Regions from separate parts of the Homo sapiens genome. Here regions 1 and 3 are each linked to region 2. Evidence: fine-mapped expression QTL. A gene starts in region 2. Each other region holds a variant in brackets. All regions are shown on one strand. Distances are between the middles of the regions.

Region 1 (7,509 bases), 22 kb after region 2:
CTATCATTTTTAGGTGAAAACACACTTGACTCCATGATGGCGCAGAATACAAAGTCTGCCTGAATCTTAAAGCTAAACTGTGGGACTTGAAAGACACACCCTGTGTGTGGAGGGCCTGTCTGCCAGGTAACAGTGTGGCTCTCAGGGTCAGGAGAGGACAAAAGCTGGGCCCTGCTTGCCTGGTGGGGTCTTTGGGAGAGTCAGGTGAGATGGCGGAGAGGACAGCATTTGGAAAAGTGAATCAGATGCCAGTGGCCCGTCTGGGGCAAGCCCCTTGGGTTCACAGCAGCCCTCACTCGGAGGGAACCTGGAGGGGAGAGAAGTTACGGCCCTCGCGGTGGGGGCCGGGTCTTGAACCCTCAGCCTAAGAGCCCCGAGCCCGAGCTCCCCCATGTGTCGCAGCCTCCAGGCAGTTGGGCCTCACCAGCATGGGGGAGCATCCCCGCTCTGCCTCTATTCCTCCCTCGAAGCTTTCTTTTCCTCCCCCAGTCCCTGGTTGCTCTCATGCCCCCACCTGCCCACCAAGGCAGGAGCCCAGCCCTCCGGTGCCTGGTCTCAGCCCCATGCCCCCTTATGTGTCCTCCTCAGGTGGTGTGTGCCAGGTGCTCCGACTACCGGGCCGAACTGAAATACGACGACAACAGGCCCAACCGAGTCTGCCTCCACTGCTACGCATTCCTCACTGGAAATGTGCTGCCTGAGGCCAAGGAGGACAAGAGGCGGGGCATCCTGGAGGTGAGGGCCACTGTCCCCGCGCTCACCATCCGTCCTCTGTTCAGGGAATGTGTGCCCGGCAACCATGCTGGGCTGACACTGTCCAGTGCTGAGGAACAAGCCAGCCATGGTCACACCCTCCCCCCTCTCCCTCTTCCTCTCTCTGCCCACAGACCCCAGGCCTCTCGCCACAGCCCAGGCAGTGTGGAGCCTGTCACCAAATGGAGGCACCCTTTGGCTGCAGGCTGTCGTCCACATTCTTCTGCACTTCCTCTATGTCCCCATCCGATAGTACGGCCCCTCTGGACAGCTCATGTTCACGTCCCCATGTCCTGCCCCGACAGTCCCAGGGTGCCAAGAGCTGGTGTCACCGCTTCCATTTTACAGATGGGAACACTGACGCTCCAGGTCAGACAGATTGGAGACTCCATTCTAACTGGAAGGGACTCCAGGGGCCAGTCGGTCTTATCCCATGGAGACCCAGGGCTGGAGGAGTGACTTGCCCAAGATCACACAGCAAGTTAGGAGCCAGCTCTCTGATCTCAGTCACAGATGTTCTTTCTGTTGCCCTGGGGGCCTCACTGAGCCACACTTGCCCCCACAGGTGCTCCCCTGTGGGGGTACAACTGTGCTCAGCTAGGCAGCACAAATACAATGTCAACCAGCTCAGCATCAATACCACTGTCCACTGCCCCTCCCTCACGAAGGCCAGGTTGACATCCCACCGTCCCTGGGAGGTGGGAGAAGGTCCCAGCCTGTGCCAGCTGAGATTCACTCCCAGGTTCAAGTTGGCCTCTTTTGGCCAGGCGGGAAGGCTCATGCCTGTAATCCCAGCACTTTGGGAGGCCAAGGTGGATGGATCACGTGCGGTCAGGAGTTCGAGACCAGCCTGGCCCACATGGTGAAGTCCCGTCTCTACTAAAAATACAAAAAAAAAAAAATCAGCCGGGCATGGTGGTGCATGCCTGTAATCCCAGCTACTCGGGATGCTGAGGCAGGAGAATCTCTTGAACCCGGGAGGTGGAGGTTGCAATGTGTTGAGATTGCACCATTGCACTCCAGCCTGAGCAACAAGAGAGAAACTATCTGAAAAAAAAAAAAAAGTTGGCCTTTTTCCACGGGCATCCACCCCGTTTCCAATCCTCCCCATCCTTCCAGGCCCAGGACCCCCTGACCACTAGGCAACACAGCCTGCCCCTGGAGATGCTCAGCCCCTTCTCAGGGCCCAATTCTGTTTCCTGGAGCAGCTCCAGGCACCCTCCCGGCACCTGCCCCTTGTGGGCACACACGCGACAGGTTCAGGCAGGCTGGGGTTTGACTGCAGCTCTGCCACTGGCCAGCTAGCTGTGTGACCACAGGCACTTGATGGGACCTCTCTGAGCCTCAAGGACCAAGGACCCCTCCATTCAGTACTGCTGTAAGGATTGGAGATAGTGATTGTCAAGCCCCCAGACCAACATCTGGCACTTGCGGCTGCTCTGCTCCCTGACAGTCCCTCCTTCTGGTTTTAGAAAGGGTCCTCAGCCACGCCTGACCAGAGCCTGATGTGCAGCTTCCTGCAGCTCATCGGGGACAAGTGGGGCAAGAGCGGCCCCCGGGGCTGGTGTGTGATCCCTCGGGATGACCCCCTCGTGCTCTATGTCTATGCTGCCCCTCAGGTAAGGCCACCACCTGCCCGCCCCCCGTCAGGCCCTGGCCTTCCCACAGCGTGTGTGTGAAGGGGGTCAGGGGTGAGTATTGCTAGCTCCATATGTCAGATAGGGAAACTGAGGCCCAATGAGGATATGGTATCCTGGAGTCTCAAGGTTGGTAGGTTTCAGAATTGTGCCCTGACTCTAGGTCACCACTGCTTTGCCCTCAGAGGCAGCCAGTTCTTCTGTCCTCTTCCTCGATGGCCTTCACCAGCCCACCCCCAACCCATGGGGGTTTAGGGTGTGAGCTGTGCGTGCGTGGCTGTTGCCTTCACGATGGCTATCTGGGGCAGTAGGACTGAGAGGGGACAGTGGCCCACTGCTCTCTCCTCCCCCCAGGACATGAGGGCTCACACCTCCATCCCCCTGCTGGGCTACCAGGTGACTGTTGGGCCCCAGGGGGACCCTCGGGTCTTCCAGCTACAGCAGTCAGGCCAGCTCTACACCTTCAAGGCCGAGACGGAGGAGCTGAAGGGCCGCTGGGTGAAGGCCATGGAGCGGGCGGCCAGTGGCTGGAGCCCCAGCTGGCCCAACGATGGGGACCTGTCCGACTGAGCCACTGCCAGCCGCTCTCCTGCCCACCTCTCCCCACCCTGAACCCAGCTCCTGCCACAGACTGACCCTGTGGCCTCAGTGACCCACTGCCCCAAGTGGTGCTTTCAGAGAATTGATTCAGCCATCTGCGCCCAGGCCACGTGTCCCGATCTGGGATTAGAAAATATGGGTCCATTCCTTTCTAGAAAGGGGACAACCAAGTGTCTCAGTTTGCCTTGCGGGGAGGGGGCTCCTGGGCCATGGGACTTCCAGTGCTAAAACTGGGAAAGCCCCAGGTAACCCCGGACTGGTGGTCACCATAGTATGGTTTTTCATTTGTATCTCCTGGGGAGCTTTTAAAGAGTACTGGTGAAAAACACATAGTAAATTAATTTTAAAAATGTAAAAAACAATGCCTGTACTGAAGTACCACCACCGATTTAAATGGGCTGAGTTGGGGGAGGCATGGGGTCTTTTTTTTTTTTTTTTTGAGACAGAGTCTTACTCTGTTTCCCAGGCTGGAGTGCACAAACATGGCTCACTACAGCCTCGCTCTCCCGGGCTCCAGTGATCCTCCCGCCTCAGCCTCCCAAGTAGCTGGGATTATAGGTGTGTGCCACTGTGCCAAGCTAATTTTTTTATTTTTTGTAGAGATGGGATTTCACCATGTTACTCAGGCTGGTCTCAAACTCCCAGCCTCAAGCGATGCTCCCACCTCCACCTCCCAAAGTGCTGGGATTACAGGCGTGAGCCACCATACCTGGCGCATGCATATTTTTTAAGAGTACCCACTGGAGTCTAATATATAGCCTGGGTTACCTGGGATGAAGAATAAAGAGAGCAAACTACCACAACCAATGGTTGAGCCCCTGTCAAGTGCCAGTCATGATAGTAGTAATAATAATAATAAACATCTATTGG[A/G]CCAGGCTCTGTGCAAGGTGTTTTATGTGGATTATGTCATTTTACCATCCAGAGTTATCCCCATTTCCAGATGAAGACACCGACTCAGAGAGGTTTAGTAATTGGCTCAATTGGTCATGTAGCTCGTAGATGCCAGAGCCAGGTTTTAACCCGGTGAACTAAGGTCAAAGCTCTTTCTATCATGGAGCAGAACAATAAGACAAGCAGAGAGGGGAGGAGAGTGAGGAGAAGCAAAAGAGAGGGAAAGAGAGTGAAGAAGCTGGGAAGACAAGAGAGAAAGGTGAATGGTGGGAGGAAGGGTGACGGGAGGAGCATCCCTGTCCCCTCATCCCCACCTCGCTGGTGGGTGAGGATGCTTTTTCATAAGAGACCACCAGGGGGTGGCAGTGGTCAGCAGGCCACATGCAGTGGCCCCAGCAGTGGCCAGAACACCCTCAGCTGCTCTCAGCAGGTCCAGCCATTGCTGGGCTCTGCCCTGAAAGGAGGAAGCATGGATGAGTCACAGGTTTTTGTCCCATCACAGGCCCAGCAGCTTTGCCTGCCTCCAACCTGAGGCCACTTCCCTCCTGTAGGGTGTTTGTTTGTTTATTTGAGACAGGGTTTTGCTCTGTCATCCAGGCTGGAGTGCAGTGGTGTGATCAGAGCCCACTGGAACCTTGACCTTCTGGGTTTAAGCTATCCTCCTTCCTCAGCCTCCTGAGTATCTAGAAGCACAGGTGCACGCCACCACATCCAGCTAATTTTTAAAATTTTTGTAGAGATGGGGTCTCACTATATTGCCCAGACTGACCTCAAACTCCTGAGCTCAAGCAATCCTCCTGCCTTGGCCTCCTAAAGTGTTGGCATTATAGGCATGAGCCACCATGCCCGGACAGCATCAGCATTTTATTTATTTTTTATTTTTATTTTTATTTTTGAGATGGAGTCTGTCACTCTGTCACCCAGGCTGGAGTGCAGTGACGCCATCTTGGCTCACTGCAACCTCTGCCTCCCAGGTTCAAGTGATTCTCCTACCTCAACCTTCCAAGTAGCTGGGATTACAGGCGTGCGCCACCATGCCCGGCTAATTTTTGTATTTTTAGTAGAGACGGGGTTTCACCATATTGGCCAGGCTGGTCTCAAACTCCTGAACTCCGGTGATCCACCCATCTCAGCCTCCCAAAGTACTGGGATTACAGGCATGAGCCACTGCACCTGGCCTGCATCAGCATTTTAAAACTCGCCAATGATGCTGAAGGCAGCTGGCTCGGTGACAGCAGAGTCGATTCTGCAGCACTGATACCTAAGCTTTTCCAGGGGTTTAATCTGAGTGGGAGTATGGAGAGTGGCTTCACTGTGGAGCAAAATGAGGTAGCCGTCAGGAGAGGGAAGCGAGGGCACACAACCTTTGTGCTGTCATTGTTAGGTTTACTGAGGTGTAATTTACAGACTGTAAAATCCACCCTTATTAGTATATTTTCTAAGTTTTGGCAGAAGAGTACAGTCATACAGCTACCACCACAATCCCCCTATAAGTGTCCCCATGCCACCCTTTGTAGTCAACCCACACCCCTACTCCTTGCCTCTGGTAACCATTGATCTGTTTCTGACTGATAATTTTGCCTTTTCCAGATGTCATTTAAATGGAACCATAGCTTTTTAAGCCTGGCTTCCTTTACTCAGCATTATATATTTGAGATTCATCCATTTTGTTCTCCATGTCAGTAGTTCATTCCTTTTTCATTGCTGAGTAGTATTCCATTGCATGGGCATACCACAGTTGTTCATCTGTTTACCAGGTTAAGTATACTTGGGTTATTTCCAGTTTGGGGCAATTATGAATAATACTCCTATGAACTATAAACGTTCATGTTCAGTGTTTGTGTGAGCACGTTTTCTTTTCTCTTAGGTAAATACCTAAAATTGGGTCACTGAGTAAGTGTCTAACTTTATCAGAAACTACCAAGCTGTTTTCCATATTGGTTGTACCATTCTGCATTCCTACCAGCAATGTATGACATTTCCCCTGCTCATGCATTTGGTATAGTCAGGTTTGAAGTTTGTTTTTTTAAAATTAATAATTTTAGACATTCTGGTGAATGTATAGGGCTCATGACCTTTTAAATGTTTATGATACAAAGAAATGCATACAGGCTCACATCTGTAATCCCAGCACTTTGGGAGGTCAAGGCAGGAGGATCGCTTGAGCCCAGGAGTTTGAGTCTGTAATGAGCTATGATTGTACCACTGCACTCCAGCATGGGTGACAGACTGAGACCCTGTCTCAAAATGAAAAAAAAGTAGGTATTTTGCAAATGATTATTACCTACTATGTGTACCTAATACGTGCCAGGTAGTATACTACTTATACTACTTTTTCTTTTCTTTTTTTTTTTTTTTTGAGATGGAGTTTTGCTCTTGTTGTCCAGACTGAAGTGCAGTGGCACGATCTCCGCTCACTGCAACCTCTGCCTCCCAGGTTCAAGCGATTCTCCTGCCTCAGCCTCCCAAGTAGCTGACATTACAGGTATGCACCACCACGCCCAGCTAATTTTGTATTTTTAGTAGAGACGGGGTTTCACCATGTTGGCCAGGCTGGTCTCAAACTCCTGACCTCAGGTGACCCACCTGCCTTGGCCTCCCAAAGTGCTGGGATTACAGGTGTGAGCCACCACGCCTGGCAAGGTAATATGCTACTACTTTCCAAATCTCAGGGGCAGCTGATATCATGCAAAGGGCACCCCCTTGATAGCCTGAAAAGCTCAAATTCCAGTTCTGTTGAAGGCTTGACATAGGGTCTTGGGGATATCACCCAACCTCTTGAGCCTCCATGTATTCATTGTAACTTGACAAGCAGTGCCTCTTTGTAGGATTTGGTGTGAAAACCAAGTGAGATAATTCAGGGAAAGCTCCTAGCCCACAGACGGAGCTCGCTGGCTGGGAGTTGTTACTAGCTATGCTCTTCATGGACGTTTCTGCTTTCCTGGGACCATTTGTTCTGGCCGCAAGCCTGGTTGCTTCTACCTTCAGGATATACTGCGAACAGAGCCCGTCCTCACACCTCATACCCCTCACATGCTGTCACTTGGCCCGGCCACTGTGATATCTCTGGGGGTGATTGCTAGAGCTTCCCACCTGCCCTTCCTGCTCCCACACTTGTCCTCTGGCATCTTCACACAGATTCTTTCAAATCTGAAAGCTGAGCTAGTTTTCAGCTCCCAGCCCTCCAGTAGCATGGGGTTAGAAGCCCATCTAATGCCTCCCTCCGTGTGCTCCACCAGGCCCTTTGGGATGACCCCTGGCTGCTTCTCAGAGTTCCCCCTTCCCTTGCCCCATCTCACCTCCCTCCCTCAGCACACTTCCACCTCAGGACTCTTGCACCTGCTGCTCGTTCAGCCTGGATGCTGTTCCTCCAGAAATCCGCCCGATGCACTCCCTCACTTCTCTCCAGTCTCTGCCTCATTGGCCCTCGGACAGGCTTCCTTGTCCACCTGCCTCACGTAGTGCTCCTGGCAACTCTGCCCCTGACTCTGCTTCACATAATACAAATCGTTTTATCTATTTTGTTTCTTTCTTTCTTTTTTTTTTTCTTTAGACGGAGTCTCGCTCTGTCACCCAGGCTGGAGTGCAGTGGTGCGAGTGGCAAGCTCCGCCTCCCGGGTCCATGCCA
Region 2 (6,002 bases):
GAGGCAGGAGAATCGCTTGAACCCAGTGGGGTGAAGATTGCAGTGATCCGAGATTGCAGCACTGCACTCCAGCCTGGGTGACAGAGTAAGACTCAGTCTCAAAAAAAAAAAAAAAGAGAGAGAGAGTTCTCATCTTCTAGATACACACTAAAATGTTTATGGGTAATGTCATCTGACATCTGGGATTTTCTTCAAAATGACATGAGAAGGCAGAGTCGATGTGGCTGCAGCAGGGACAGGGGACTGGCTGTGAGCTGAGGTTTGTTATGGTCTGGATTAGGGGTTCATGGGATGCATTATATGATTCTGTCTAGTTTTGCATATGTTCTAAATTCTCCATAATAAAAAGTAAAAAACAAAAATGGAGGTTTGTGAGACTTAGGGTTTGGGGCAGGGGGCCCGGCATCTGGTGGGAGAAACCACTCAGACGAGGCTTGGGGTGAGGGCGGCTGTTGGGCATGTGAGGCCCCAGGGGTTCACAGTTACTGGAGCGTGAAGCTGTTCCAGGCACTTCACGTACCAAGAGCACCGAGGCTCAGGCCCTGCACTCCAGGACACAGACCAGGTTCAGTGGAGAGCCCTGGTGGGACCAGAGCCCAGTGGGAGGGCCCTGAACGGCCTGTGGGGCTTGAAGGAGGGGAACAGAGGCAGCGTCCATTTGTTCTGTAAGGGCCGGGAGACCAGGTGGTAAAGGAGGCCTCAGGCAAAGACAACCCAGTGTCCTGGGATCAGGGAGGCCTGGGGATGGAGCAGCAAGAACATGGTCATCCAGGCTCCCAACGAACCTTTGCTGGAACTGTAGGACACCCACTTTTGCTTTGGAAATCCAACTTCTCTTGTATTCTTCCTGGGTGACCTTGGGCAAGTTACTTAACCTCTCTGATTCTGTTTCTTCCTATGTAAAGTGGGGATAGGAATAGTACCTACCTCATGAGGTTGTTATAGGATTAATAAGAAAATACTCATAAGCATGAAAAAGAGTGCATGTTAGCTATTATTATCCTCTGAGTTTCAGGGAGGAAACTGCCCTCCCTTGGGGCAATGAGGTGATGACAGCAACAACTAAAATGAGAGAACCCCAGTGGGGAGGTGGGAACATCACAGTACTCCCTGCCACCCTTACCAGGTTTGTGATTATTTTAAATAAAACATGCTGTTTCCTGGCCAGGCACAGTGGCTCACATCTGTAATCCCAGAATTTTGGGAGGCCGAGGCAGGAGGATCACCTGAGGCCAGGAGTTCAAGACCAGCCTGAGCAACATGGTGAAACCCCATCTCTACTAAAAATACAAATAATTAGCAGGGCGTGGTGGCAGGCCCTGTAATCCCGGCTACTCAGGAGGCTGAGGCAGGAGAATCGCTTGAACCGGGAGGCAGAGGGTGCAGTGAGCCGAGATCCCACCACCGCACTCTGTCTCTAAAGAATAAAAAAGACATTATTTCCTTACAGCTGTGAGCAGGGGCAGATGCAGAAAAGAAGGTGCTGGGAAAGAGGCCAAGTAAAAGCCACTGGACCTTCTGAAGGAGAAAGTGTGGTTGGCTGGAACCACTAGGCCAAGAAACCAGCCAAGGGTCTGGCTCCGGGTGGCCTTTTTTTTTTTTTTTTTTTTTAAGAGACGGTGTCTCACTATGTTGCCCAGGTTGGTCTTGAACTCCTGGGCTCAAGCAATCCTCCTGCTTCGGCCTCCCAAAGCACTGGAATTAGAGGTGCAAACCACTGCACCAGCCCAGACTGGGCTCCAGAAGCTACCTCTGGGCCCTGTTGCCACCTCTTAGGTGGCTTCTGGAATGGGGGTCTACAGGTGTGAAAGGTCAGCCCCCCTGAGGGAGAGGTGGGGCCCGAGCAGGCTCCTCCCACTGCGGGAGTGCTGGCCTTTCCCCTGCAGGGCTGTGGCTCTGGGACCACTTCCTCTTTCTTCACTCTGAAGCCAAGAGCCGACCTTCTGAGCCCTCAAGAAAGATCAGAACAGATTCATGGGTGATTTAGCCTATCTGTCCCAGGCCAGCGTGGCTGAGTGTGCTGGCTGGAGGCCTCTCTCTCTGCTTCGAGGGTAGCTGAGATCCACCCCGGAAACCGGCAGGATGAAGGGGGCAAGTGAGGAGAAGCTGGCATCTGTGTCCAACCTGGTCACTGTGTTTGAGAATAGCAGGTATGGGCAGCTGGGGTGGGAGGGTCACCATGGTGGGCTGGCAGCCACCCTCCAGCCTTTCTGGCAGCTCTCTCCCTGGGCCCTGCCCCGGACCCTCCTCCTGCAGGGGCAGCCCCGCGTTCCTCGGTCACGGATTCCTTGGAGCATGGGAGAGTGTCGGTGGGACACCAGGAGCCAGGCAGGGGTGAGAGTGCCAGTGTGTGTTGGGAGAGTCCAGACAGGTGTGGTTACGAGCAAGCATGGGCAGACCAAAGCCTGTGTGTGGGCACAGGACCCCACCCAGTGCCTGCCAGCACCTCTCAGAAAAGGTAGCTGATACTCACCAAGAATTTACGCCCTATGATTAGGATAACCATATAATTTATCATTCAGCACACAATTGAAACTGAAAGTAAATGCCAAATAAAATGTGGTGGTTGTGGGGGAGGCATTACAGGTAAAGCTGGGACCGTATGAGGCAAACCAGGATGTACGGGCAGCATCCTGATGGGGTACTCCCTACTCTAAGTTCATGTCCTTACTTATTTAATTTAGTCATCGAACAGCCTAATAGGGGTAGATTCTGTTTCTGTTCCCGTCTTATAGATGAGGAAATGGAGACACAGAGAGGTGAGGATGCCAAGTGCTTTAAGTATCTGGGGCAATGCTGGGGCGTCTGTCTGGAGGGAAAAGGCTGGGCCAGATGCGTGGAGTCATTGGTAGCCCTGGGAGCATGTGTGTTTGTGTGTGTGCGCGTGTGTGTATGTGTGTGTTGTGTGTTATGTGTGGCATCAATCCATTCTGCAGGCATTTCTTAAGCTCAGGACTGTGTTAGGGGCTGTCCCAGGTAGGGTTTTCTGGAAATAGACTCAGACAGAGGTTTGCCTCAGGTGATTTATCAGGGAGAGCTTTTGGGAACAACAGCTGTGGGTGTGAGGGAAGCAGGGCCGGGCAGGGGGAGATGCTGAACTGCAGTGCACCTGCCACAGAGGCCTCAGCCTGTCCCAGGGAGCTCTGGAGCTGGGATGCCTCTCGGTTGTTCCAGCTGAGGAAGAGGGCTGGGTATTTGTATCTCCATGTGGACTGGACAAGAGACTCTGGGTGAGGCAGCTCTCTCTTCCAGAGAGTGATTCCCAGAGAGGGACTCAGCCAATAAATTACCCGGCAGCCCCCAGTACTACCAGTAGCTGGTGGGGATGGTGTGGGGAGGCCTCATTCCTGAAGGAGGGACATGGGTGGCACAGCACAGCATCCTACAGGAACTGTAGAGGATGAAGAAGGGTTTCAGTATTTGGATGCTGAGCTCATCGAATAACTATGATGCAAGGTCATAGACAGTAGATGTCCTAGGAATGGCCCGGATGCTGTATTGAGGGCACTCATGGCAGGCAATGTTTCCTGTAGGCTTCAGGGTGGAGATGGCATAGATGTAGACCTAGAAGTCTTCAACTTCCTGAGCTGGGTGATTCTCCCCTGCCTCTCCCGGGATCTTTGCCAAGCTCGTCCTGTTCAGCACCAAAGACAGCTCTTGGGTGCCGCCTTCCTGGCCCACCACCCCCTTGGGTGTGGGTGGATGGTACCACCTCACTCAACATGCTTGACGTGGACTAGGCACACCTGGGTGGAGCCCCTCAGCATGCTGTGCTCTGCCCAGGCAATAACCCTGGCAGGAGTGGGCAGCCCTTAGACGGGAGTTAGGTCCCAGCAGGCATCAAGAGGGTGAGAGCCACTCCTTACTGAGTGAGGGGACCCATACCAACTGCCTTGGCCTGGGCTTCCTTATGAGGTCTCCAGCACCTCAGCTGATCTGAAACTGAGGGGCAAAGAGGAAACAGAAGCTGGCCAGGGGCCCTAGAACAGAAATGCAGAACCTGAAACCAAATGTAGAACAGAAAGCCTGAGAACCAGCTACGCCCATGAGCTGCAGACCCATGGGCTGAGAAACCAGGGACTGGGGTGCCAGGGAGGGGTGGGAGAGCCTGGGAGTAGCCACACAGCACTAGGTCCCAATGCTTTCGCTGCCACAAACCCAATTGTGTCACTTGGGGCAAGTCACTTTGACTCCGCGGACCTGTTTCTCCTTTACTCAAATGGGGAGGGGCAGGTTAGAGTGAAGGCTCAGGAAGCAGTCGCCTGATTTGAATCCCACCTCTGCCACTTCCGAGCCGCATGTTACTCATCCTGTCCAGACCTCAGTTTCCTTGAGTGCAAAATATGGGTAATGAAAACCTTTCTCACGGAGTTTTGGAGATTTCGTATTTGTTTGGCCTTCCATTTCCTGGCCTGTCTTTCTCATAAGGATGCCTGCCCTGTTCTGTCATCACAAGCCCTTCCACACCAAGGGCAACGTTGGGTGTATTCATCAAGGGTGGGCCCTGTTGTCTAAGGAATTTGACTGGCTTGCAGAACCCAGTACACAGGGTAATAAAGGTGACCTACGAAGGCCCGTCCCTGGGAGAACAGAGCATCTGCTGCTGGGCTGGCTCTCCCTGCTTCTGGACGTGTGGAGGATGTCGATCCCATTGAGAAGCCCCAGCTTTTGCAGGCCTGCTCTCACTTTATATTGTTCTGTGGCTCCTACCTTCCCTTGATGTATAGGTTACTGATGTGGAAACTGAAAACAGAGGTGAGGTCCAAAGGTGAGGATAATCCAGGGGGTACCACTCAAAAACCCCTATATACAGAAAGGATTCCTGGACACTGTGGCTTCATTTTAAACAAGGAAGTATGCAGTTCCCCAGAAAATAAAATATAGTCCACCCTGACTCATTTTGAACACTGAGTTCCCTCCAAGAATGTGTTGGGAGAGAAGTGAAAGTCTTACTCAGCATGTTCCCAAAGAAAGCCAGGCACCCAGGGGCCCCTGCACTGGGGATTTGCACCAGGCAACCCAAATCCACACCAGGGACTTGCTGCTGTTTTCCCTGTTCTCCAGGGAGGAAGCCCTCAGGTCTGTCTCTTCTCCTCAGGACCCCAGAAGCAGCACCCAGAGGCCAGAGGCTAGAGGACGTGCATCACCGCCCTGAGTGCAGGCCTCCCGAGTCCCCAGGACCACGGGAGAAGACGAATGTCGGGGAGGCCGTGGGGTCTGAGCCCAGGACAGTCAGCAGGAGGTACCTGAACTCCCTGAAGAACAAGCTGTCCAGCGAAGCCTGGAGGAAATCTTGCCAGCCTGTGACCCTCTCAGGATCGGGGACGCAGGTGCCTGAGGGCTGAGGTAGAGGTGTGGGGTGCTGGGGTGGGGAGCTCTCCCTGACCTCCCCTCCACACATGCTTTCCTAGCCAGAGCCAGCAGTTCCCCAGGTGGGGGTATGGTGTGATCAGAGGTCAGCTGGGAGCTAGATTTCCCCATGCTTAATGGCCTTTGATTCACTAACTGCCTGCTACGCACCGTGCTGGATTACTTCGCGAGTCCCTCGTGTAGGAGTTTTTTGGACAAGGAAGTTGAAACACAGTTTTAAGGAACTTATTCAAGGCCACACAGCTTGGAACAGTCTCCATCTTGTGAACCTAATACTCTTCTCAGGTGGGGCCTCAGTTTACCCACTGGAGGAGACAACAATCTCAACCTAGAAATAGAGGTCTGAGTGTGAACTGTCCTGCCCTTAGACTAAAGCCCAGTCTGATCTCTTCTGTGGCTTGCAGTTTTCTCATCTGCAGAGTTCAAGGGTTGGCATGCAGATACTGTGCACCCAAATTCCCTGGAGTCACATCCCAGCACGTCTGCTTACTAACTGTGTGTCCTTGGGCAAGTCACTTGAGTCTCTTTGTGCCAGTTTCCTCATTTGTAAAATGGGGATAGTGGTTATAGTAATGCGTCCTGGTTTTCAATCGCTGCTGAACAAACCTATCAAAAATGTAGCGGCTGGCCGG
Region 3 (7,509 bases), 37 kb after region 2:
GCTTTCATAATTACGTGAGGAACCTGGCCTGAAAGACCACAGGAAGAGAGAGGCCCAGGCACCCCAGCCAGTCTAGACCACCTAACCCAGCGAAGCCATTAGCAGACTGTTGCTGTGTGAATGAAAACAGCAGAGGAACCATCTAGCCAACCCACAGAATTGCAAGAATAATAAACAGCTGTTCTAAGTCACTAAGTTTAGGGATGGTTTGTTACACAGCATTACATAACTGATACATCCATCTACACTATCAGCGTACCACTCAGGTCAACAAAGGGTATCTCATGTTGTGCAAACTCAGAATTGAGACCCAAATTGTAAGCATTTTATGTGTTAATAATTATATTCTCCAGAACCCTTTCACATGTTCCTTTTATTTTTCTGAGGCAGGGTCTTGCTCTGCAGCCCAGGCTGGAGTATACTGGCATGATCGTGGCTCACTGAAGCCTTAACCCTCTGGGATCAAGTAATCCTTCCACCTCAGTCTCCTGAGTAGCTGGGACCACAGAAACATGCCACCATGCGTGGGTAATTTTTGTTTGTTTGTTTGTTTTGAGATGGAGTCTCTCTCTTTCGCCCAGGCTGGAGTGCAGTGGCACAATCTCGGCTCACTGAAAGCTCCGCCTCCCGGGTTCACGTCTTTCTCCTGCCTCAACCTCCCGAGTAGCTGGGACTACAGGCGCCCGCCACTGCGCCTGGCTAATTTTTTTTTTGTTTGTATTTTTTTAGTAGAGACGGGGTTTCACTGTGTTAGCCAGGATGGTCTCGATCTCCTTATCTAGTGATCCACTTGCCTCGGCCTCCCAAAGTGCTGGGATTACAGGCGTGAGCCACCACGCCCGGCCATGACTGGCTAATTTTTTAAATTTTTTGTAGAGATGGGATTGCACCATGTTGCCCAGGCTGTTCTCAAATTCCTGGGCTCAAGCAATCCGCCTGCCTCGGCCTTGAAAAGTGCTAGGATTACAGGCATGAGCCACCACGCTCAGCTCCACAGGTTCTATCTAATTTGTCATGACAACCCATTGAGAAAGAGGAAAAGGAAATGTGGTATCTCTCCATTAAACAGATAAGAAAACTGAGGCTCAGAGAGATATGTGGCTGTCCCAAGATTACTCAGCAAATCAGTAAAGGTGCTGTTATAGACTGAACTGTGTCCCCCCAAAACTTATATGATGAAGCCCTAGTCCCCAGTGTGATTATATTTGGAGATAGGACCTTTAAAGAGGTAATTAAGATTAAAGGAGGTCATAAGGGCCTTAATCCAACATGACTGGTATCATAAGTAAAAGAAGAGACAGGCCGCGTATGGTGGCTCACGCCTGTAATCCCAGCAATTTGGGAGGCTAAGGCGGGAGGATTGCCTGAGGTCAGGAGTTTGTGACCAGACTGGCCAACATGGTGAAACCCTGTCTTTACTAAAAATACAAAAATTAGCTGGGCGTGGTTGTGGGCGCCTGTAATCCCAGCTACTCAGGAGGCTGAGGCAGGAGAATCACTTGAACCCAGGAAGTGGAGGTTGCAGTGAGCTGAGATCGTGCCACTGCACTCCAGCCTGGGCAACAAGAGTGAAACTCTGTCTTAAAAAAAGAAAAAAAAAGAAAAAGAAGAGACATCAGGGATGCGTGTGCAGAGGAAAGGCAGCAGTGAGAAGGCGGCCGTCTGCAAGTCAAGGAAAGAGGCCTCAGGAGAAAAAAACCTGTGATACTTTGATCTTAGACTTGCAGCCTCCAGAACTATGAGACAATAAATTTCTGTTGTTTAAGCGACCCAGTTTGTGGTATTTTCTTATGGCAGAAACTAATATAGCAACTAAACTAGCAAACTAATATAGATACCGCTACTCAAATTTAGCTCTTATGCTTTCTTAGAAGGAATTTTCTTAAAACAATGACATACCATTTCTTGCATATCAAATTGGCAGAGATTTTTAATTAAAAGATAAACTTAGTGCTAGTAAAGATACAGAGAAATTGACTTTCTCAATCACCAGGGGTTGGAATCTAAATTAGTACAACTTTCTAAAGGAGATTTGGCAATACATATAGAAAGTCTTTAAAATCTACTTACTAACATATGGTAATAGCAAAATATTGGAAATAACCTATGGCAGACTGTATTTTCTAAAGATGGAAGCACTGATATATCCCATTTCCCATGCTCTTCTTATAATGCGATGTTAGCATCCTCCTTTGAGAGGTAGGGTCAATTCCCTCTGCTTGAACCTGGGCAAACCTTTGTAGTTGCCATAACCAATAGAATGTAGTGGAAGCAAAGGTGTGTGGCTTCCAAGGCTCGGTTATAAAAGGCATCACAGCTTCTGCCTCAGCTTCCTGGACAGCTTCCAGAGGACACTCGAGCAGCTCTGTGGAGAGATCCATGTAGAGAGGAACTGAGGCCCCCACCTACAGCCAGCACCAGCTTTCCAGCTGTATGAGTGAGTAACTCTAGACATAGATTTTCTTGAGCCCAGTATGGTGGCTCATGCCTGTAATCCCAGCACTTTGAGAGGCCAAGGTAGGGGATTGCTTGAGCCCAGGAGTTTGAAACCAGCCTGAGAAAAACAGTGAGACTCCTATTGCTACAAAAAATTGAAAAATTAGCTAGGCCTGGTGGCACACACCTGTGGTCCCAGCTACTCAGGAGGCTGAGGTGGGAGGATCGCTTGAGCCCAGTTCGAGACTAGCCTGAGCAACATACTAAGACCTCATCTCCAAAAACAGTAATAATAAATTTTTTTAGAAAGAAAGAAGTAGATCTTCTAGTCCCAGTTGAGCCTTCAGATACCTTCAGCCTCAATTTGCATCTGACTACAGCCACATGAAAGACCCCAAGTGAGCACTGCCCAGATGAATCCTTCTCAAATTTCTTACCAGCAAAAAACTGTATGAGAAAATAATTTTTTATTGTTTTTCTAAGCCACTGAACTTCTGGATAATATGTTATACAGTCATATATAACTAATATGTAACCATCAATAAGGGACTACGTCTATCCAACAGGGGACTACTTAAATATATTATGGTAAATGCATATAATAAAATATTATGTAGTACTGACTTGGAAAACTCTACAAGATAATTTCTTAAGTGAAAAAATGCAAAGTGCAGAATAGTATAGAGGATACTGCTGTCTTAGTTCATTTTGTGTTGCTATAACAGAATACCACAGACTGGGTAATTTATAAAGAAAATACATGTATTTGGCTCATAGTTCTGGAGGCTGGGAAATCCAAGAGCATGATGGTGGCATCTGGTGACAGCCTTTGTGCTGCATCATCCCATGGCAGAAAGTGGAAGGGCAAGAGAGGGCAAGAGCAAGAGAGCAAAAGGGGGCCAGACTCACTTTTTTTCTTTCTTTTTTGGGACAGAGTCTCGCTTTGTCACCCAGGCTGGAGTGCAGTGGTGCGATCTCAGCTCACTGCAACCTCCACCTCCCGGGTTCTAGCAATTCTCCTGCCTCAGCCTCCTGAGTAGCTGGGATTACAGGCACGTGCCACCACGCCCGGCTAATTTTTTTTTTGTATTTTTAGTAGAGATGGGGTTTCGCTGTGTTAGCCAGGATGGTCTTGATCTCCTGACCTCGTGATCCGCCCACCTCGGCCTCCCAAAGTGCTGGGATTACAGGCATGATCCACTGCGCCCGGCCCCAGACTCACTTTTATAATATGCCCATTCTTAAAATAACTAACCCATTCCCACAGTAATTGCATTATCCTGGCTCTGCCCTCATGACCTAATCACCTCTCATTAGGCCTTGCTTCCCAACACTGTTGCATTGGAGATTGAGTTTCCAACACATGAACTTTGGTGGACACATTCAAACCATAGCAACTACCATTTGTGGAAAAAAAAAAAAAAATAGCTAGGCACAGTGGCTTATGCCTGTAATCCCAGCATTTGGGGAGGCTGAAGCAGGAGGATCACTTGAGGCCAAGAGTTCGAAATCAGCCTGGGAAACATAGCAAGACCTCATCTCTATGAAAAAGACAAAAATTAACTGGATGTTGTGGCATGTGTGCCTGTAGTCACAGCTGCTGGGGAGGCTGAGGCAGGAGAATCACTGGACCCCAGGAGTTCAAGGTTGCAGTGAGCTATGATAACATCACTGCACTCCAGCCTGGGCAACATAGAGAGACCTCGTTTCTAATAAAAATTAAAACAAAACAAAACAAACAAAGCAGCCTGTCATAGTGGCACATGCCTATAGTCCCAGCTACTTGGGAGACTGAGGCAGGGGGATCACTGAAGCCCAGGAGTTTGAATTGCAGTGAGCTACAATTGCACCACTGCACTCCAGCCTGGGCGACAGAACAAGACCCTGTCTCTGAATATATATATATATAATATATATATATTTATATATTTTTTATGTATATATATTATATATATATTTATATATTTTTATGTATATATATTATATATATTTATATATTTTTATGTATATATATTATATATATTTATATATTTTTATGTATATATTATATATATTTATATATATTTTATGTATATATATTATATATATTTATAT[A/ATATT]TTATGTATATATATTATATATATTTTATATATTTTATGTATATATATTATATATATTTATATATATTTTATGTATATATATTATATATTTATATATTTTATATATGTATATTTTATATATATTTATATATTATATATATTTATATATTTTATATATATACACACACATAGAGATATATGTACATATGCATAGAGATAATACACATATATTTTGTAATGTGTATATATACACCATATATATTATCTATTCAAAAGTAAATAAAGTTGAACATTTTAAAATAATGCTTTGCGGCGCTGCGGCAGTCCAGATCAAAAATGGCGGCAGTTGGTGTGTTCTCGGTTTCTCGGCTGCTGGGTCGGTCCCGCCCACAGCTGGGGCGGCCTATGTCGAGTGGCGCCCATGGAGAAGAGGGCTCAGCTCGCATGTGGAAGACCCTCACCTTCTTCGTCGCGCTCCCCGGGGTGGCAGTCAGCATGCTGAATGTGTACCTGAAGTCGCACCACGGAGAGCACGAGAGACCCGAGTTCATCGCCTACCCCCATCTCCGCATCAGGACCAAGCCGTTTCCCTGGGGAGATGGTAACCATACTCTATTCCATAACCCTCATGTGAATCCACTTCCAACTGGCTACGAAGATGAATAAAGAGAATCTGGACCACTACCCGGGCACCAGGGACCACAGCACTGGTTTGGACCATTACTCTGCACATGGACCAGAAAAAGTATATGGGACCTTAAGCTCACCTTCTTTACTTGTATCAAATGATGACTGGTATACTGGTCTCCCATCCCTTTGCTTGTGGCGGGAGATGGCTTAAATAAATAACTTAAACTTAAAAAAATAAAATAAAATAATGCTTTGTCTTTAACTCAGAAGTTTCGCTTCTACGAATTTATCCTTAGTAAATGATCATGGCAAAGATTTAGCTTAAAGGATGTTATCACAGCTTCATTTGATATTGTGAAAAAGGTAAAACAACCCAATTATTCAACAATAGGAAATTTGTTGAATAGCTTATGCCATTCTCGTACTCGGCCACCGTCTTTAATGGCCTCTTAGAAAACGATCCCATGCCCTGGGAAGTGATCATGATATACTAATTGATAAGAAGTTATGACATGGCACCGTGTAATCTTATCTTTCAAGTCAATTGAATTATATAAGTGTAGATTGAGATGTAGATTAAAACACAGGGAGAGATGAAGATAGATACAGAAACCAAAATGTTAACACTGATCTCTGGGAGGTCCAATTACTGTTGATTTTGTTTTCTTCTCTTTCACCTGTGTTTTTCAACAATAAATGTGCTACTTTGTAAAAACACAAATGCTACAAATTTGTCTCCTTTTTTTGTGAAGGATTCCTAGATGATTCTATAAATAGCAGCTCCAGATACAGAATTTGAAACTTTGTTTTTAAAGAGAACAGAGTTTTCAAAGTCAAAGATTACCAGACATACATCGTTGGTTAGAGAGAGCTGCCAGGCCTGTTCTAAGAAGTCCTATCATGTTGGTGACAACACTGACCCCCTCCCAGTCCAGCTGGCCAGTGGTGGCCATGTCCAGAGGGGACATCCTGAGTGCAGGCTGTGTCCCTAAACTACCTCTAATCAAAACTAGTAGGCATGGGAGGCGCCAGAATTTGCATAGGATGATCTTGGGACCAGTATACAATCTGCACTTCCAAAGCCAGCCCACTGTTTGTACTTACATCATAGCTTAAAAAGTGGGCTGGGGCCAGCTGGGTGCAGTGGCTCACACCTGTCATCTCAGCACTTTGGAAGGCTGAGGCAGGAGGATCACTTGAGGGTAGGAGGATTACTTGAGGTTAGGAATTCGAGATCAGCCTGGGCAATATAGTGAGACCCCCTCTCTAAAACATTCTTTTTAAGCTAGCCAGGTGTGGTGGCTTGTGCCTGTACTCTCAACTACTGTGGAGGCTGAGGTGGGAGGATGGTTTGAGCCCAGGAGTTTGAGGCTGCAGTGAGCTATGATGGTGCCACTGCACTGCAGCCTGGACAACACAGCAAGACCCCATCTCAAAAAAAAAATCATAAGTGTTACAAGTTTAATTCTATGTCCCCAAAACTCCTATATTGAAGTCCTAACCCCAAGTACCTCAGAATGTGATTGCATTTAAAGACAGGATGTTTAAAAAGGTAATTCAGGTAAAATAAGGTCATGAGGATGGGCCCTGATCCAATCAGAAGAGGAAATGAGGAGAGACATGTGCAGAGGAAAGACCATGTGAAGAGAAAGAGAGAAGACGGCTCCCGGCCAAAAAGAGAGGCTTCAGAAACCTGCCCTGATGACACTGTGCTCCTGGACTTCCAGCTTTCAGAACTGTGAGAAAATAAACTTCTGTGTTTAAACCACCCAGTCTATGATACTTTGTTATGAAGACGTCATGTTTACTAAAGACATTTTTTTTTTTGAAACGGAGTCTCGCTCTTTTACCCAGGGTGGAGTGCAGTGGCGCGATCTCGGCTCACTGCAACCTCCATCTCCCAGGTTCAAGCAATTTTCCTGCCTCAGCCTCCTGAGTAGCTGGGATTCACTTCGCTTCCACGTCCAGCTAATTTTTTGTATTTTAGTAGAGACAAGGTTTCACCATGTTGCCCAGGCTGGTTTCGAACTCCTGAGCTCAGGCAATCCGCGCACCTTGGCCTCCCAAAGTGCTAGGATTACGGGTGTGAGCCACCATGCCTGGCCCTGAAGACACTTTTTAATGTATACTTCATATAAGACTGAGAAAATGTCCATTGTCCAAAACAAAGACATTTTCTAGTGGTGCCTCTGAGGTATAGAGCTGATGGCAGTTATGGGGACTTTGGGCACCTCCAGCCCCCAGGCACCTCCACTGCAGGCTGCAGGTTTGCACCCTGGCCTTCCCAGCAGGCAGAAGCAATCCCACCATCCCACGAGCCTGGAGAGCCCGGGTCTCAGCTCCTGGTGGGTCCTCAGGTCCCCGTGCAGA

The links.
Region 1: its variant is fine-mapped to the expression of FGD2 in whole blood (TOPMed, PIP above 0.99). The same link has a PIP of 0.9 or more in lung.
Region 3: its variant is fine-mapped to the expression of FGD2 in monocytes (CEDAR, PIP 0.95). The same link has a PIP of 0.9 or more in B cells and monocytes after interferon gamma.

What each region holds. Positions count from the first base shown.
Region 1 is chr6:37,025,204-37,032,712 of GRCh38, forward strand. It overlaps FGD2 (FYVE, RhoGEF and PH domain containing 2), which reads left to right. Exons shown (of 16, transcript NM_173558.4): 14 at 589-735; 15 at 2,226-2,372; 16 at 2,745-3,866. The coding sequence ends at 2,960. Among named protein-coding and RNA genes, the nearest start is that of FGD2, 23 kb to the left of the region's middle. RefSeq lists enhancers at 1-506, 218-1,155, 4,440-4,519. The variant A/G (reference allele first, on the strand shown) is at 3,861.
Region 2 is chr6:37,003,736-37,009,737 of GRCh38, forward strand. FGD2 (FYVE, RhoGEF and PH domain containing 2) reads left to right here and starts at 1,920. Exons shown (of 16, transcript NM_173558.4): 1 at 1,920-2,150; 2 at 5,099-5,330. The coding sequence starts at 2,083. RefSeq lists a silencer at 1,518-1,680 and enhancers at 1,936-2,065, 3,886-4,055.
Region 3 is chr6:37,040,015-37,047,523 of GRCh38, forward strand. It overlaps the pseudogene COX6A1P2. Among named protein-coding and RNA genes, the nearest start is that of FGD2, 38 kb to the left of the region's middle. The variant A/ATATT (reference allele first, on the strand shown) is at 4,531.